Linked DNA regions of Homo sapiens: region 2 is linked to region 1. A link means that fine-mapping ties the variant in region 1 to the expression of a gene that starts in the linked region. Tissue or cell type: blood mononuclear cells. Region 1 holds a variant in brackets; the other region holds the start of a gene. All regions are shown on one strand. Distances are from middle to middle.

Region 1 (8,093 bases):
AGGAAGCTCTGGTGACTGAATCCAGGAACGTGCGGCATGTACTGGTGTGTGCCTTGAGGCATTGGAGCCGGCATTGGAGCCGGCGGCGTGGACCCTGGGCCACCCCAGGACAGGCAGGGCTCACTCTGTTTCTGGCTTGCAGACGGGTGGAACCAGCAGCTGTGTGGAGGCCTGAACTGTGTGCCAGCTGGGCTGTGCAGACACAGAAGTTTGAGACTGCCTTTCCCCAAAGGAAGCTAGAGGCTCCTTACACCCCACGGCTCCCCGGGCCTGTCTGTGAAACCTGGCTCACCTGGCCCCCTTCACAGGGTTGGCTGTTGGTGGTCACTGGGCACTTTGTAACCAAGCAGCATCCTACGTTTTCCCATTCTTAACAAACCAGGACCAAGGGGTCATCAGACTCCGATTTCTGCCACCCGTGACTGCTGTACAGTAGGTCCCAGAACAAGTCAAGGGCTGAAAGTTCGGCTAAAAGTTTGTCTCTGACTCAGAATCCCGTGTTCACCAAAGACCAGTTGGGGCTCCGTGGGTGCTGATCGCCCTGCTTATCTGGGTGTGTGTTAAAGCCCAGCTCTGCAGTACTTAATTATATTCCAGGTGCCCCTAATAACAGCCTGTGAGTGCGAGATGAGGTGTCTCACCTTATGCCGCTCAGTTGAAGAAATTGGGGGCTGTCACATTTTGACACCCCAGACCTATCAAGCACACAGAGAACATGACACTGCTCACCCCACCCCTGGCCACCCAGGGGTGGCCGCTGTCACGTGCGCAGTGCACCTGAGGTCTGAGCTGGCAGCTGGGCCCCTCAGATGTCTGTGTGTGTGTCTGTTGCATTTTTTCCTCAAAGGAGAAACCTGCAGGTTGAGGCCCGTCCCGCTCAGACCTGCCTGTGTCTCTGTGTCCAGTGGACTTTAATCCAGGGGCCTAGGGTACAGCCAAGCCTTCACTGCTGCCTTAGCCCTTTTCCTCCTCCGTGATTGTTTCCAGTGTTTTGCAACTGATCTGATCTGGGGAAACGTCGTGTTTAATTTGGAGCATGCTGCCAACGTCCCCAGTAGGATTTCGGAGGCAGCCGCAGGTTTCGGCGCTGCCCGGGGCAGAGCTTAGAGGAGAAGCTCAGAGCGGCCTCCATGTTTCTCTTTTCCAAGCCCCTGAGGTCTTTAAGTGCCGGGAGGGTTGGAAGGGGAAGCATTGCCCCGGGGTGGGGGTGGGGTAGGTGTCAGGAGCTCAACAGGCTCTGGAGGCATCTCAGCAGGACCTGAGCTCTCCAACTCTAATGGCTTTTTAATGTGTGAGCTGAAGTGTCAGGGGGCGGTCTCTTCTGGTTCTTTTTCGAAGCTGTCCCTGGAAAGCGGATGAAAGAATGTGGTGGCCAGGGCTGCAGCGGGTTTCCCTCTCTCCCTTCTCTCCCCTCCTCTCCCTATCTCTCCCCCCTCTTCTTCCTCTCTTTCTGTTCTCACTCTTCCCTTGTCTTTCTCTCTGTCTCTCCCTTCTTTTGCCCTCTCACCTCTTCTTCCTCTCTCTCTGTCTGTCCTCTCCACACCTTCTTCCTGTCTGTCTGCCTGCCTGTCTCTCTCTTTCTCTATCTCTCGCCTTTTGCAGGGCTGGATTTGGCAAGCACTTTTCCTGAGCACTGCAGCTTGGTGCGTTTCTGCTCATTTCCTGTTAAGCAGTACCCAGGGCTCCCTGAACTCAGGCTCTGGGAGGACGGCCCTGTCTTCCTTTTCCTCTCCACTCCTAGAAAAACCTGCTGACCAGGCCCTGAGAGCAGGGTCACGGGGAGACCTCCTCACCACAGCAGGAAGATAGACGGACAGTTTCCTCCATTGGACCTGACTCAGCAGCGGCCCACTGACCGCCTGGGAGGGGGCTCCCGCCTAGCGGGCCGCAGTTCCACACCTGGGTAAGGGGACGAAGCACCCAGCAGGGGTCATGCCGCGTGTGACACAGTCTGTAGGGGCGGTGGTCATGGCAGATACTCAGAATCCAGATGGCATCAGGCCTGCGAGGGCATGGGGTGAGTGGGCCCACTCCCCTCCCTGGGCCGGGAACATGCGTCTCCTCTGCCCTGGCCCCCAAGTGGACAGCTCCCCACATGGTTTCATGCCAATGGGAGTGATTATTCCATTGCCGTTGCCACTGGAATATGAGCCCATTGCCGCCGGAGCCAGGCATTTGTGCTCATTGCTGCATCCCCAGTGTTTGGTTTACTGGCTGGCCTGCCCCAGGGAGCCGGTAAATATCACATGGAAGGACGGATGGGCCACCGTGGCCCCCACCCTACAGCGGATGGCCTCGTGTCGAGTTTGTGTGAGCACGCCCTAGAGGAAGAGAAGCAGGTCTCCACCTGGCCCAGGGTACAGTTCAAGCTCTCAGCCGAATTTCGGGAGCTTCTGGAGCCCCTGCCTTGGTCCCAGGTTTAAATGCTACTCTTCCCCTGCATGGGAACTCACACAGTCAGTCCCTCCCGCCCACCCTGTGTGGGGCCCTGTACTCTCCTGCCTCCTGTCCATGTCACCGGCCTCTCCTACCTCCCAACCTCATTTTCTCTCCACTTCCTGTCTGCCCTATAACGAACGCGTTTCTATCTCCCCTTATCCTTGGCATCTTCCGGGGATGCATGTGGGAACTGAGTTCTCAGCCCTTGGAGCTTCTGGCCTCGGGGTCCCCCACCCAGATGCCACACGCTGGTGTTCGTGTGAGGTGCTCTCCTCCCATCGGACGGCAGCTCCTGAGGCTGGGCTGTGCTCGGGCATGTGTGATGGGCCATGTTCTGCTGGGCACTGGCCTGCTGATGAGGTTGCCAGAGACGCCCCCTACAGAGGCTGAGCTAGAGGGCTCCTTCTCAGAGTGAGGGGCTGTCCTCCACAGGGCCCCTGTGGTGTCCCTGGTGGTGGCTCAACAGCAGCCCCTGGTCCGCTGGCCAGGCATCTGACCAGGCCGTGTCACAGCACCAGGGAGGCAGGTGGCTGACAAGGCCTCGGAGAACTCGGTTGGGAACAGGTCCGACTGCTCTGAAAAAATCAACAGCTCAGAGAGTGTCTCCTGTGGTTTAGGGTGTGTGTCCAGCTCCAGGGCTGCAGCTGACAGTCACCTGAACTTGGCCAGGTCCGAGGGCCTGACTGTGTCACAGGCAGTCTCTGACCCAGAGCCTGCCTGAGCAGGGTCCCTAAGAAGCCAAGCCCAGACGCCTGCTTCCCCCCTTGATCGAGGCCAGGCTGAAATGCACCTGCTGCTGCCCGGCTGGGCCGGTCTGCTCAGAGTTGGTGGTTCCCTGGCTTGAATGCTTCCCCAAACTAAACCACTC[C/T]CAGCCTCCAGAAACTGGCTCCCCAGCCCTGTTTGCCAAGATTCTTAGGACTTTTGCCATGGCTGGGCCTGGCCACCCATCCTGCAGCTCTCTCCCTGGCCTCTGTGCCCAGTTGCTGCAGTGACTTCTCTCTGATTGCCACAATAGGCCCTGCGGCTCCTCCCACTTCTCCCTGTGGATGGCCCCTTCTGTCTCTGAGCCTGCTGTCTCCTGTGCTTCCGCTGCCCCTCTCTGTACCTGTCTTCTAAGCCTGCGTCCCCTGTCCCAGCGTTCAAATGTGACACTCCCACGACTCGCAGACCACAGCAGGCAGCTGGCCAGCGGTGATGCCCTGAAATGACAGCCAGGGTTCATCGCCTGTCCTTCAGCTTGAACCCATTAGCTGATTCGGCCTCTTTCCTCTTAAATTACTTTTATTTTATCACTTTTAAAATGTATTTTAAAGGGGATCGTGGTATTTTTCCTTGCTCAATAACAGTAACTGGAATAGGCCGGACACGATGGCTCACACCTGTAATCCCAGCACTTTGGGAGGCCGAGGCAGGTGGATCACAAGGTCAGGAGTTTGAGACTAGACTGGCCAACATGGTGAAACCCCATCTCTACTAAAAATACAAAAATTAGCTGGGCGTGGGTGGCGCATGGCTGTAATCCCAGCTACTCAGGAGGCTGAGGCGGGAGAATCGCTTGAACTCAGGAGGCAGAGGTTGCAGTGAGCTGAGATCGCGCCAGTGCACTCCAGCCTGGCGACAGAGCGAGACTCTGTCTCAAAAAAACAAAAACAAAAACAAACAAAATTCGTCGGGCGTAGTAATGCATATCTGTAATCCCCGCTACTCGGGAGGCTGAGGCAGGCGAATCGCTGGAACCTGCGAGGTGAAGGTTGCCTTGAGCCAAGATAGCACCACTGCACTCTGCCTCAAAAACAAAACAACACAAAAAACCCCGCACAGTAAGTGGAATAACAAATACAACAGCAGCAAAACAATAGAGTGAAATTTTGCTGGATACCCCACCCCTGAGCCTGAGGTGTGCTCTCTTGTGAAAGAGCTGTTCGGGCTGGACGTGGTGATTCTTGCCTGTAATCCCAGCACTTAGGGAGGCTGAGGCAGGATTGCTTTAGCCCAGTTGTTCAAGCCCATTTGGGCAACACAATGAAACCCCGTCTGTACAAAAAATTAAATTAGCCAGTCATAGCGGTGCACACCTGTAGCCCAGCTACTTGGTAGGCTGAGGTGGGAGGATCACTTAAGTCCAGGAGTTTGAGGCTGCGGTGAGCTATCATCATGCCGCTGCCCTCCAGCCTGGGCAACAGAGCAAGACCCTGCCTAAAAAAAACAAAAACAAAGCCTGTACTATAGTAGTGCCCACCTGGAAGTTCCTTCTTGCCAGAATAAGAAATACAGAAGAGGGGCCAGGCGCGGTGGCTCATGCCTGTAATCCCAGCACTTTGGGAGGGCGAGGCGGGCAGATCACGAGGTCAGGAGATCGAGACCATCCTGGCTAACACGGTGAAACCGTGTCTCTGCTAAAAATACAAAGAATTAACTGGATGTGGTGGCGGGCACCTGTAGTCCCAGCTACTCGGGAGGCTGAGCCAGGAGTATGGCGTGAACCCGGGAGGCAGAGCTTGCAGTGAGCCAAGATTGCACCACTGCACTCCAGCCTGGGCGACAGAGCAAGACTCCATCTCAAAAGAAAAAGAAAAAGAAATACAGAAGGGGAATTGCAGCGGAGTTGTGTTCTGACCACGTGATTCACGTGCCTTATGCTTGTGTTAGCTGCCACGCTGTGGGAAATGCCTCACGGAAGGCACGTTGCCTTTTCCCTTGGGGCCCACCGCCATGCCCTCTGCAGTCTCGCCTCTTAGGATCGGGGGATCCTGCACACTGGGATTTGGGCTCAGGAAAGAGGGCTGATGGGTTGGTAACAGCCAGGTCCTGAGTGCCTGGGGAAAGGCATGGAAGCTGGAGACCCAGCAGTCAGCATTCTTAAGGAGTTCCCAAACATTGTTGGGCACGGTGGCTCGTGCCTGTAATCCCAGCTCTGAGGGAGGCAGAGGCAGGAGGAGCGCTTGAGCCCGGGAGTTTGAGATCTGCCTGGGCAGTATAGCAAGACCCTGTTCTCCAAAAAAAAAAAAAAAAAAGTGAAAAAGAAATAAAAAAAAAAAAGAGTTCCCAAACATCACCCAAGCAGTAATGCAAATATCTTCCTCCAGGACACCCCCATCCAGCCCTGCGTGCTGGAAGCAGAACTGCTGACTGATTATTTTTCTGCTGTCATTTCGGGACTTTGCCCCAGCACTAAGCAGAGACCCTTATTCTCAGGAAGCCCCCTGCGGAAGGAAGCTCTGGGAACTTTCTGCCCGCCCTCGCCGCAATCCCTTGCCACCCGCCTCTGTGGGATGAGGCCCCACAGCTGACTCAGGCAGGCATCCATCAGCCTAACAGCCTCACTCATCAGAGTCCCGATTGTTTGAAACAGATGGGCAGCCCTGGCCCTTCAAGGCCAGCCTTTGTGGCTCAGAAGAGGGCAGCCCAGGGACCTGGTTGGAATTTCCCCATCTCCCAACCTTCACCCACCCTGGCATAAGATCATCTTCATCCTCTCCTGAGGCCTCTGATGGTTTTCTCTAAGGTTGAGAATCCCTGCTATTATTTTAGGAAGGAAGGACAACCCCCAGAACTGCAGAGTATCTTGCTTCTTGCTGACTCTGGTCAAGTCAGCGTTCCACCCACGAGGAGCCTTGGAGCTGTCGGACCCCTGGCTGAGCGTAGTGTGGGTGTCTGGGAGGTATGTGCTGCCCACTGCAGAGGCTGGCTCGGAGGCCGCTGGAATGCTGCGCTGTGCCCTAGCTTTTACATTTTTATTTCATACTTGCAGAATCCTGTGTATTTTTCCAGTGTTCTCCCACTCCCAGCCTTCCCACAGCAGCCTCCCCGGCTAGCCCCAGAGCACTCTGTGCCTGTCAGAAGAAGGCACCAGTGGGCCCCTCTGTTGAGTGGGGTCCCTGTGCCACCTCTAGACTGGCTGAGGGTTCCATAGTGGGCAGCTGCACAGCCAGGGAGGGTCTTTGGGGCCCGGAAGGAAAGAGTGCTGCTGGGAGGGAGGGCAGGAGAAAGACCTTTGGTCTGCCTGCTGCAATCACGTTTCTGGAGCCCAGGAGTCCACTCGGCTGTCAGAGGAGCCGGTAGGGGGTCGCCCTCCTTCCAGGAGAGGTTGCCTCTTACTGCATTCAGAACACATTCCCTGGGCCACACGCTGGTCGGCACCAGTATGTGGCACAGGGCACCTCCCTTGTTCAGGCACCTCATGAAGGTTGTATCATAAAGGGTTTCAGATCCAGAAAGGCAGCTAAGAATGACCAGCAGATGAGCAGGTGCCCCCACCCCATCCCAAGGAAGCCAGAGCAGGGCCGGCGTGCCTTCACTGCGCACGTTCACTGCGCCAAAACACGCAGGGTTGTGTGGCGGTCCACACTGCCTGTCAACAGGATCACGTGCTTTCTTGCTTGGTTTCTCGTACCCTAGTTTTTTTTTTTTTTTTTGAGATGGAGTCTCTCGTCACCCAGGCTGGAGTGCAATGGCGCAATCTCAGCTCACTGCAACCTCCCGCTCCCAGGCTCAAGCAATTCTCCTGCCTCAGCCTCCCGAGTAGCTGGGATTACAGACACCAACCACCACACCCGGATAATTTTCATATTTTTAGTAGGGACAAGGTTTCACCATGTTGGCCAGGCTAGTCTCGAACTCCTGAGCTCCAGCAATCTGCCTGCTTTGGCCTCCCAGAGTGCTGGGATTACAGGCGTAAGCCACCGCACCTGCTCACCCTACTTTTAGGCTGAGCACTGCTTGTGAGTACCGTTCACACTGACACACGAGGCTCCACTCGCATCCGCAGCTGCGTGGCTTTCCCTCGTGGTTATTCCACAGTGTGTCTATCCGTTCTCCAGCCAGTGGACATTTAGAGTCTCCAAGTTTCTGCATTTTCACACAGCCTGGCAGTGAGCGGTCCCCTGTGGCATGTATCTGAGAGCTTCTCCAGTGCGGTACCTTGCTTAATATGATCATCTGCTGTAGTGCTTGATGACTATGCCCATGAATAGCCACTGCACTCCAGCCTAGGCAATATAGCGAGACCCTGCCTTCAAAAAAAGAAAAATAGCCACATAGGTTTTCAGCAGTCCTAGCCTGGAAAAAAACAACCTGTTCAATTTGCATGACCGAAAGTCCTGGACCGGTGGCTAGCAATATCGTGTGTTGCGCACTCGTAAAGTGTGTTATTTCAACCCTCCTCCACCGTGCTGTATGTGCCTGGGGGCCTTGGCCAGGAAGCCAAGTGGGCGGGGAGGAGGCTCCCAGCTCAGGGTTAGCTCTGTGTGGTCCGGAGCGGGATGAACTGGGGGGCTCCTGCGCCATCAGCTCTGAGGACTCTGCTTCTGCTGGGCATCCTCCTCACGGATGTAACATCCCCTCCAGCCTGTAAATTCCTCTGGAGCCTGCGTTTTCAGTTTTGTTGTGTACAGTGAGGCCGCGCTCACAGAAAGCACCTAGCACCCAGCCTTGTCGCAGAGGGCAGCTTGGGCCAGGACTCACGTGCTCCCTGTGCAAATTCACCTACTTGATAAGATTGATTTGTAGCCCCAAATCATTCCTTTTGCAGTCTTTTGCAGACAAGTGCAGAGCAGCAAAAAATCTGTCACCCATCGCATATGTTCCTAGCCGAGGTCAAACAAAGCCACACTGCCTTCTCCTAGCTCTCAACGCTGTGTTCTGGCGTGGATCAC
Region 2 (8,093 bases), 70 kb before region 1:
AGACCAGCCTGACCAACATGGAGAAACCCTGTGTCTACTAAAAATACAAAAAAGTAGCCAGGCATGGTGGCGGGTGCCTGTAATCTCAACTACTCGGGAGGCTGAGGCAGGAGAATCCGAGAGATGGAGGTTGTGGTGAGCCGAGATCGCACCATTGCACTACAGCCTGGGCAACAAGAGCGAAATTCCTTCTCAAAAAAAAAAAAAAAAAAAAAATTAGCTGAGTGTGGTGGCACATGCCTGCAGTCCCAGCTTCTTGGGAAGCTGAGTGGGGAGGACTGCTTGAGCTCAGAAGTTCTAGGCTGCAGTGAGCCATGATTGTGCCACTGCACTCCAGCGTGGGGAAGAGAGTAAGACCCTGTCTAAAAAAAAAAAGAAAGCTGGGCATGGTGGCTCATGCCTGTAATCCCAGCACTTTGGGAGGCCGAGGCGGGCGGATCACGGGGTCAGGAGATCGAGACCATCTTGGCTAACACGGTGAAACCCCGTCTCTACTAAAAATACAAAAAATTAGCCGGGTGTGGTGGCGGGCGCCTGTAGTCCCAGCTAGTCGGGAGGCTGAGGCAGGAGAATGGTGTGAACCTGGGAGGTGGAGCTTGCAGTGAGCCAAGATTGTGCCACTGCACTGCAGCCTGGGCAACAGAGCGAGACTCCATCTCAAAAAAAAAAAAAAGAAAAGAAAAGAAAAGAAAAATAAATGTTGTCCTCCCAAAGTGCTGGAATTACTGGTGTGAGCCACCGACCGCTCCTGGCAGAAATGTTAAATTATTTAATCTCATAACCTCATCCGACATGAGGAAGATAGTCCAGGAGAGCGTCATGGTGGAAGAGGATTGAGTTAGGCAGAGGAAGAGAAGTCCCTTCTGGTAAAGGAGAATGCCTAGGCAAAGGCCCAGAGGTGAGCTGGAAATACTTCCAGGTAACTGAGGCAGAGGTGGAAAGGTGGGTGATAACAAGAAACGGGGTTTCTGAAACCCTCAGAATACTTAGAACCTGAAATAGAAATTTATTAGGGCCTATTAATGTTAGGATCTCCTTAGACCAGGCTGAGGAACCCCATAGGATTTTATTCTTGGAGAAGTGGGATGGGTCTCTGCCACTTTCCAGCTGTGTGACTTTGGCCCAGTGTTGTACCTTTATTTGAGTTATAGGGTATACAATTCCTTATTCACAACAATGAGCTGTAATTTTCTTTTCTTTTCTTTTTGAGACGGAGTCTTGCTCTGTTGCCAAGCTGGATTGCAGTGGCGCAGTCTCGGCTCACTGCAACCTCTGCTTCCCAAGTTCAGGTGATTCTCCTGCCTTAGCCTCCTGAGTAGCTGGGATTACAGGCATGAGCCACCGTGCCCGGCATACTGAGAACTTTCTAATCACATGATCACCCCTACAATCTATAGAGAGTGTTATTCTTATCCCCATTTCATAGATAGGAGACTGGAGATCAGAAAGATTGAAGTTTGGGTTGCACTGTATTCTTCTTTTATTTATTTATTTTTTTACTTTATTTATTTATTTTTGAGACAGAGTCTCGCTCTGTCGCCCAGGCTGGAGTGCAGTGGTGCAATCTCAGCTCACTGCAACCTCTGTCTCCTGCGTTCAAGTGATTCTGCTGCCTCAGCTTCTCAAGTAGCTGGGATTACTGGCACACACCACCACACCCGGCTGATTTTTGTATTTTTAATAGAGACGGGGTTTTGCTATGTTGGCCAGGTCGGTCTTGAACTTCTGACCTTAAGTGATCCACCCGCCTTGACCTCCCAAAGTGCTGGGATTACAGGTGTGAGCCACCGCACCTGGCCCAATTCTTTTCCTTTTTTTTTTTTTTTTGAAACGGAGTCTTGCTCTGTTGCCCAGGCTGGAGCACAGTGGCATGATCTCGGCTCACTGTAAGCTCTGCCTCCTGGGTTCACGCCATTCTCCTGCCTCAGCCTCCCAAGTAGCTGGGACTACAGGCGCCCGCCACCAAGGCTGGCTAATTTTTTTAAAAATTATTTTCAGTAAAGACAGGGTTTCACCGTATTAGCCGGGATGGTCTCAATCTCCTGACCTCGTGATCCACCCGCCTCGGCCTTCCAAAGGGCTGGGATTACAGGCATGAGCCACCGTGCCTGGCCTTTTTTTCTTTTTTTAATAAGACAGGGTCTGGCTCTGTTGCCCAGGCTGGAGTGCAGTGGCGTGATCCTAGCTTACTGCAGCCTCCAATTCCTGGGCTAAAGCAATCCTCCCACCTTGGCCTCCCAAAATGTTGGGACTGCAGGCCTGAGCCACCCGTCCAACCCATGATATTTCAATTTCAGTCTTGGGGTGGGCTGTTTCCTCACCTGGAGGCTTCTCCTCCATCAGTCTCTGTGTATCTCATTCCAACTCCTTCTTTTTTGAGGCAGAGTCTCCCTCTGTTGCCCAGGCTGAAGTGCAATGGCGAGATCTCGGCTCACTGCAACCTCCACCTGCCGGGTTCAAGCGATTCTCCTGCCTCAGCCTCCCGAGTAGCTGGGATTACCGGTGCCCATAGAGACAGGCTTTCACCATGTTGGCCAGGCTGGTCTCAAACTCCTGACCTCAAGTGATCCGCCGGCCTCGGCCTCCCAAAGTGCTGGGATTAGAGGCATGAGCCACCACGTCTGACCCCCAACTCCCATTTTTTGAGGCTTGTTTTAACTGTCACTTTGTGTATCTTCTTTGTGGATTGCACAGACCAAAGTACGCCACTATTAACTGGTGTCCACCAAAGTGGATCCCCAATCCCCAGGTCCCAATTGGGTGCATTGGGTGCATCCTCTTTTTTTTTTTTTTTTTTTTTTTTTGAGACGGAGTCTCGCTCTGTCGCCCAGGCTGGAGTGCAGTGGTGAGATCTCGGCTCACTGCAAGCTCCGCCTCGCGGGTTCACGCCATTCTCCTGCCTCAGCCTCCCGAGTAGCTGTGAGTACAGACGCCTGCCACCATGCCCGGCTAATTTTTTGTATTTTTAGTAGAGACGGGGTATCACCGTGTTAGCCAGGATGGTCTCGATCTCCTGACCTTGTGATCCGCCCGCTTCGGCCTCCCAAAGTGCTGGGATTACAGGCATGAGCCACCGCGCCCGGCCCAGGTGCATCCTCTTAAACAGCTCCTACCTAGGGTACGTGGTGATGGTGGCGGGGGGGTGCTTCAGGCACCAAAACAGGCCAGATCGTGGGGGCCTCCAATACCCAACATTGAATTGGGATTTTATCACGTAAGCTCTGGGGAGACAGAGAAGGTTGGAATTTTTTTTGTTTTGCTTGAGACAGGGTCTCTCTCTGTCGCCCAGGCTGGAATGCAGTGGCTTGATCACAGCTCACTGCAGCCTCGACCTCTTGGGTTCAAGCGATCCTCCCGCCTCTGCCTCCCAAGTAGCTGAGAGGCGCGCGCCACCACCCTCGGCTAATTTATTTTATTTTATTTTTTTTTTTTTTATAGAGACGAGGTTTTGCCATGTTGCCAGGCTGGTCTCCAACTTCTGGGATCAAGCAATCCTTCCGCTTGAGCCTCCAAAGTGCTGTGATTGCAGGCGTGAGCCACCGCGCCTAGTTTAGGTTGAGCAGCGAAAGGGATAGGGCCCAGTGCTTTCTCTGCGAGGTTCAGTTGGCCTGTCCCTGTCCTATCACCGTTTGTCACCGTTTGGGGAGCGCCACGGAATGCCCTGTCTCCAATCGAGAGGTGCACTCGTCGCCCTGGCAACGGAGTCCGGAAGAACCACAGAGACGCGGCTCCAGCGTACAGAGCGGCCGCCCTGGGCCAGCAAGGCACCGAGCGCTAGAGAGGCACGTCTAGTCGATTGTCACGTGGCAGGCCAGGGGAAGGCGGGACTTCCGGCGGCGAGGTAAATTTTTTTTTTTTTTTTTTTTTTTTTTTTAATTTTCTTCCGGTGGCTGGTCTCCGGCGGCCCCGTCCCCGACTGGGCCCCGTGCCCCCCCGCCCCCGCGGCCCCCCGCCGCCGGGCCAGCCGCCACCATGAAGAAATTCTTTCAGGAGTTCAAGGCCGACATCAAGTTCAAGAGCGCGGGACCCGGTCAGAAGCTCAAAGAGTCCGTGGGGTGCGTGAGGAACGCAGGGGCTTGAGGCCCTGCGGGGCGGGGACGGCCGGGGAGAGAGATCTGGGGCCTTGGGCGGCTCGGGAGATCGGAGAGGATGAGGGGCTGGGAGCGGCACGCGAGGGTCAGGGGAGGGGGAGAGGCGCCGGGGGCGGACGAAGTCGGGCCGAGGGTGGGCGTCAGGGGGAGGGGAGAGAGATCTGGGGGCGGGGCAGGAGGGGGCGGGTATGACCCGGGGGCGCGGCGGGGGAGGCGAGGGGAGGGGAACTAGCGCAGGGGGCGGGGCGGGAGGGGAGGTCTCGGGGGCGGGGCCGCAGGAGGGTCCGATGCAGTGGCGGGGGATTAGGGCGACGGGGCTGTAGGCAGTTGGGGGTCAGTGGAACGACCTTTGGGGAAAAACGGGATCATGAGTCCTGAGCCGGGTGGTGAGGGAGAGCTCTGTCTGGGGACCCGGCTGGCCGAAGAGGCCGGGATGATTTGGGGCAATCTAGGTGACCATGGATGGGAGCTGAGCTTGGAGGAGGACGCACAGCTGTGGGGTGGGGTGGTGAAGAGTTGTTTTGAGGTATCCATGGGAAGAGGGGTTCTGGATTTGGTATCTGGAGCACGTGGGAGGCTGATGGGAGACTAGAAAGAGTCTGGAAGGCCAGGGAGGCCGGGGTGGGCAGCGTCGTCAGTGACCTGGGATGTCCTGGCGAATTGAGAGGGAGGGGCTGAGGAAGGTGTGTGAGGAGAGTGGAGGTGAGGGATTCTGACAGATGGACTCTTACCCGGGAGGGGCCTGAGAGGAGAAGACGGGTGAGACAGACGCGTCTTAGCAGGCTGGGAGAAAGAGCTTCTCTGCGAGGCTTCTCTGCCACGTCACTGTGCCAAGTGGATTATGGAAGTGGGAGAGGAGGGGAAAGGAGATAGATGCCGGGCAGGCTTCCGGATTGTCTAGGGAGGACTTGGAGAGAAGGGCCTGAGCAGGGCTGAGCCAGCTGGGAGGGCCGGGGAAGAAGTGGAGCTAGGGAAGGTGCAAGGCTGAGGGCTGTTGGGTTGAGAAAAGGGAAACTGGAGAGCTGGGGCCGCTGCAGGGAGCTGGCTGGCCAGAGGGTGGTGGGGACTGATGGAGAGGGACTGAGGAAGTCAGCCAGGCAGCCAGGACACGGGTCTGTAAGCAATAGTGGAAGGGATTGTGAGGGAGTGGGGGCTGGGAGAGGCAGGGAGGTGGCAGGAAGTGGGGGTCAGGAATCACGGGGCAGTGGGGTGGTGATGGAGGTAGGGGCATAGTGAGGACGTCAGGGTTCCTGGGGGAGAGCAGGAGAGCAAAGGCTGAGTGAGGGAGGGAGAGGGGTCAGGGAGAGAAGGGGGCAAATCGGGGGAGCCCTTCATTGATTCAACCAATAGTGGGTGGGGGGTGCTGGGGCCACTGGGACTGGGCATGATAGGAAGGATGCAGGGTATCGGGGTGATGGCTGGATCAGCCCAGAGCCTGGGCGGAGAGGGGAAGGTTGGAGGGGAAGGTTGGGAAAGGAAGCGGTGCGGAGGTCCCTTGTGGAGCGAGACTGCATATCCAGGGTGTGTGGGGTGGGTGGGCACCAAGTCCTGTTTTAGGCTGCAGTGGTGGACAGGAGAAGGCCTCTGCTGTCCCAGGGCTCACCTTCTAGAGGGAGCCGATGGACAAATAAACCAACAGACCTTGGATGAGCGCTCAGGCGATGAGTGCTTGGATGAGTGCCCAGGGCCTCCAAGGAGGGTGAGCAGGGGCCGTCAGGTGGTTTGGGAAGGCCTCTCCCAGGACACAGTGAGACTCAGCTGTGGGGAAATCTGCCCCTCCTTCTCTCCCTGCGGCAGCTCTAGCCCTTTCCAGACCCCCATCCTCCTCCCACTCCCCCGGAGAACATTCTGGGCAGAAGGTGCAGACAGTGCAGGGGCCTGCAGTGGGGAGCAGCTGGGGTGTGGGAAGAACTGCGGGGAGCCCAGGGGAGACAGGCCACGGGAGGGCAGTGGGCCAGGCTGGGAAGGGCTCTCTGGCCAAGGGAAGCTTTAGGATTTTGCAGTGGGAGGGCGTTGTGCAGTGGAGTGATGCTGACGCTCCCTGGCTGAGGTTCCAGAAGGGTCCCTGTGGCTGCCCAGGGGGGCAGGGTCCATGGCTGGTTGGGGTGAGGTGCCCTGGGAAATGGCATTTTGTTGGAAAGACCCAGATATCGGATGAGGCCGGGGTGGGTCTTCATGAGTCATCTCCTCTTCCACCCAAGATGCTCAGCTGTGGGAGGACTAGATAGGCAGGGGTGGGACGAGGAGGGAGGGCTGCCCGGGTATGTAAGCAGAGCCAGAGGAGTATAGGGCTTGAACTGAGAGCCTGGCCTCCCAGAAGGTTTTAATAGACCTACGGCACAGAAATTGACACAGCCCGTAAGTTCATGGGAGGGGCCTGAGAGGAGACGGGTGAGACAGACGCGTCCGAGCAGGTTGGGAGAAAGGGCTTCTCTGCGAGGCTTCTCTGCCAGGTCACTGTGCCACGTGGGTTACGGAACTCTCCTTGGTGTAGGGCTCAACAGGGTGGAGCCACGAGTCCATGAGCTCTTCGTACTTGCACAGCCCTAGGCCTGGCATGGAGTGGCCAGGGCGAGGCTGGTTCTGCTGTCCGCTCTCCCCAGGGTCCCGCCACGAGGGTGGCGTGGCATGGGGCACATCGCCCGGACTTCCTGTCCCTCTTGGGTTTAGGAATGGGATGGTGAGGCCTCCCTGGCAGCTTGTTAGGAGGAGTAAACCAAGCGAGCCGACCAGCTCCCAGCAGGGTCCTGGCACACAGTAGGTGCTCAGCAAACGAAGCTGTGACCTGAGGGTGGAGAGTCTTATGGCAGGGAGGGAGGGAGGATGTGACACCCCTTGAGTCTCCTCAATTCCTGAGGATGCGGGCTGGGTGCTGTGGCTCATGCCTATAATCCCAGCAGTTTGGGAGGCCACGGTGGGAGGATCATTTGAGGCAAAAGTTCGAGACCAGCCTGAGCTACATAGCGAGACCCTGTCTCGATAGAAAAATTAGCCAGGCATGATGATGCTTGCCTCTAAGTCCCAGCGACTTGGGAGGCTGAGGCGGGAGGATTCCTTGAGCCTGGGAGCTCAGGATTGCAGTAAGCCATGATCGTGCCACTATACTCCAGCCTTGGTGAGAGAGCAAGACCCTGTCTCAAAAAGAAAAAAAGCACTGAGGATGTCAAGGTGCCTTCACCTCAGGAGGGGTGCTGTCACCCCATTTTACAGATGAGGACGCTGAGGGCCAGTGGGGGCAGGACTTGCCCGATGGTGCAGAGCTGAGTGGAACCAGCATCTCCTTCCTCCAGGGGCTCTTCCGCCTGCAGTAGAACCATCTGGTGGCTGCAGGTGGCCCCTGGGAACCAGGTGTCCTGGCCCACATAGGCAGGGACACGTCTGGCTGATGGTGCTGGGGAGGGGCAGAAGCTCCTCTGTGTGACTGCACGTCAGCTTTGCCGGCCACCTCGGGAGGATACACTCACTCTCCCTCGGTCTGTTCCCAGGGAAAAGGCCCACAAAGAGAAGCCCAACCAGCCAGCCCCCAGGCCGCCCCGCCAGGGACCCACCAATGAGGCACAGATGGCAGCCGCTGCCGCCCTAGCCCGGCTGGAGCAGAAGCAGTCCCGGGCCTGGGGCCCCACATCGCAGGACACCATCCGAAACCAGGGTGAGATATGGCCCTCCTCGGGCCCAGGTTGGGGCTGTTTGAGGTTCTCGGCCCTGGTGCCTGGCCCTGGATGCAGAAGTCACATGAGCAACCGTGGGGGTGTGAGGGTCACCCTTGGGAGCGGCTCATCAAGGGCAGGTGCTGGGGGAAGGGCAGCTTCCTGGGGAGGGGGTGGGAGCAGAGACTTGGAGCAGAAACGGGCTGCCCAGGCAGTGGGGTGCTTGCTCAGGCTGAGGGGTGGCTGCACAGCAAGTCCTGCAGGGGACCTCCAGCCTGACCTCCAGCAGAAGCAGGCTGGGGCGGTGTGCGTGGCCCCCAGGCCCACCCCGGGAATGAGGGGGCTTGGGCCAGGA

What was found. PIP is the estimated chance that this variant, and not a neighbour inherited with it, causes the effect.
Region 2: it holds the start of UBXN6, and the variant in region 1 is fine-mapped to the expression of UBXN6 in blood mononuclear cells (TOPMed, PIP above 0.99). The same link has a PIP of 0.9 or more in lung.

What each region holds. Positions count from the first base shown.
Region 1 is chr19:4,383,862-4,391,954 of GRCh38, reverse strand. The region is part of intron 1 of SH3GL1 (SH3 domain containing GRB2 like 1, endophilin A2); the gene reads left to right. Among named protein-coding and RNA genes, the nearest start is that of SH3GL1, 13 kb to the left of the region's middle. RefSeq lists enhancers at 728-1,336, 1,337-1,943, 1,944-2,551, 4,970-5,470. The variant C/T (reference allele first, on the strand shown) is at 3,308.
Region 2 is chr19:4,453,577-4,461,669 of GRCh38, reverse strand. It overlaps UBXN6 (UBX domain protein 6), which reads left to right and starts at 3,876. Exons shown (of 11, transcript NM_025241.3): 1 at 3,876-4,055; 2 at 7,577-7,740. The coding sequence starts at 3,973. RefSeq lists enhancers at 3,615-3,814, 7,641-8,093 and silencers at 3,925-3,974, 4,005-4,074.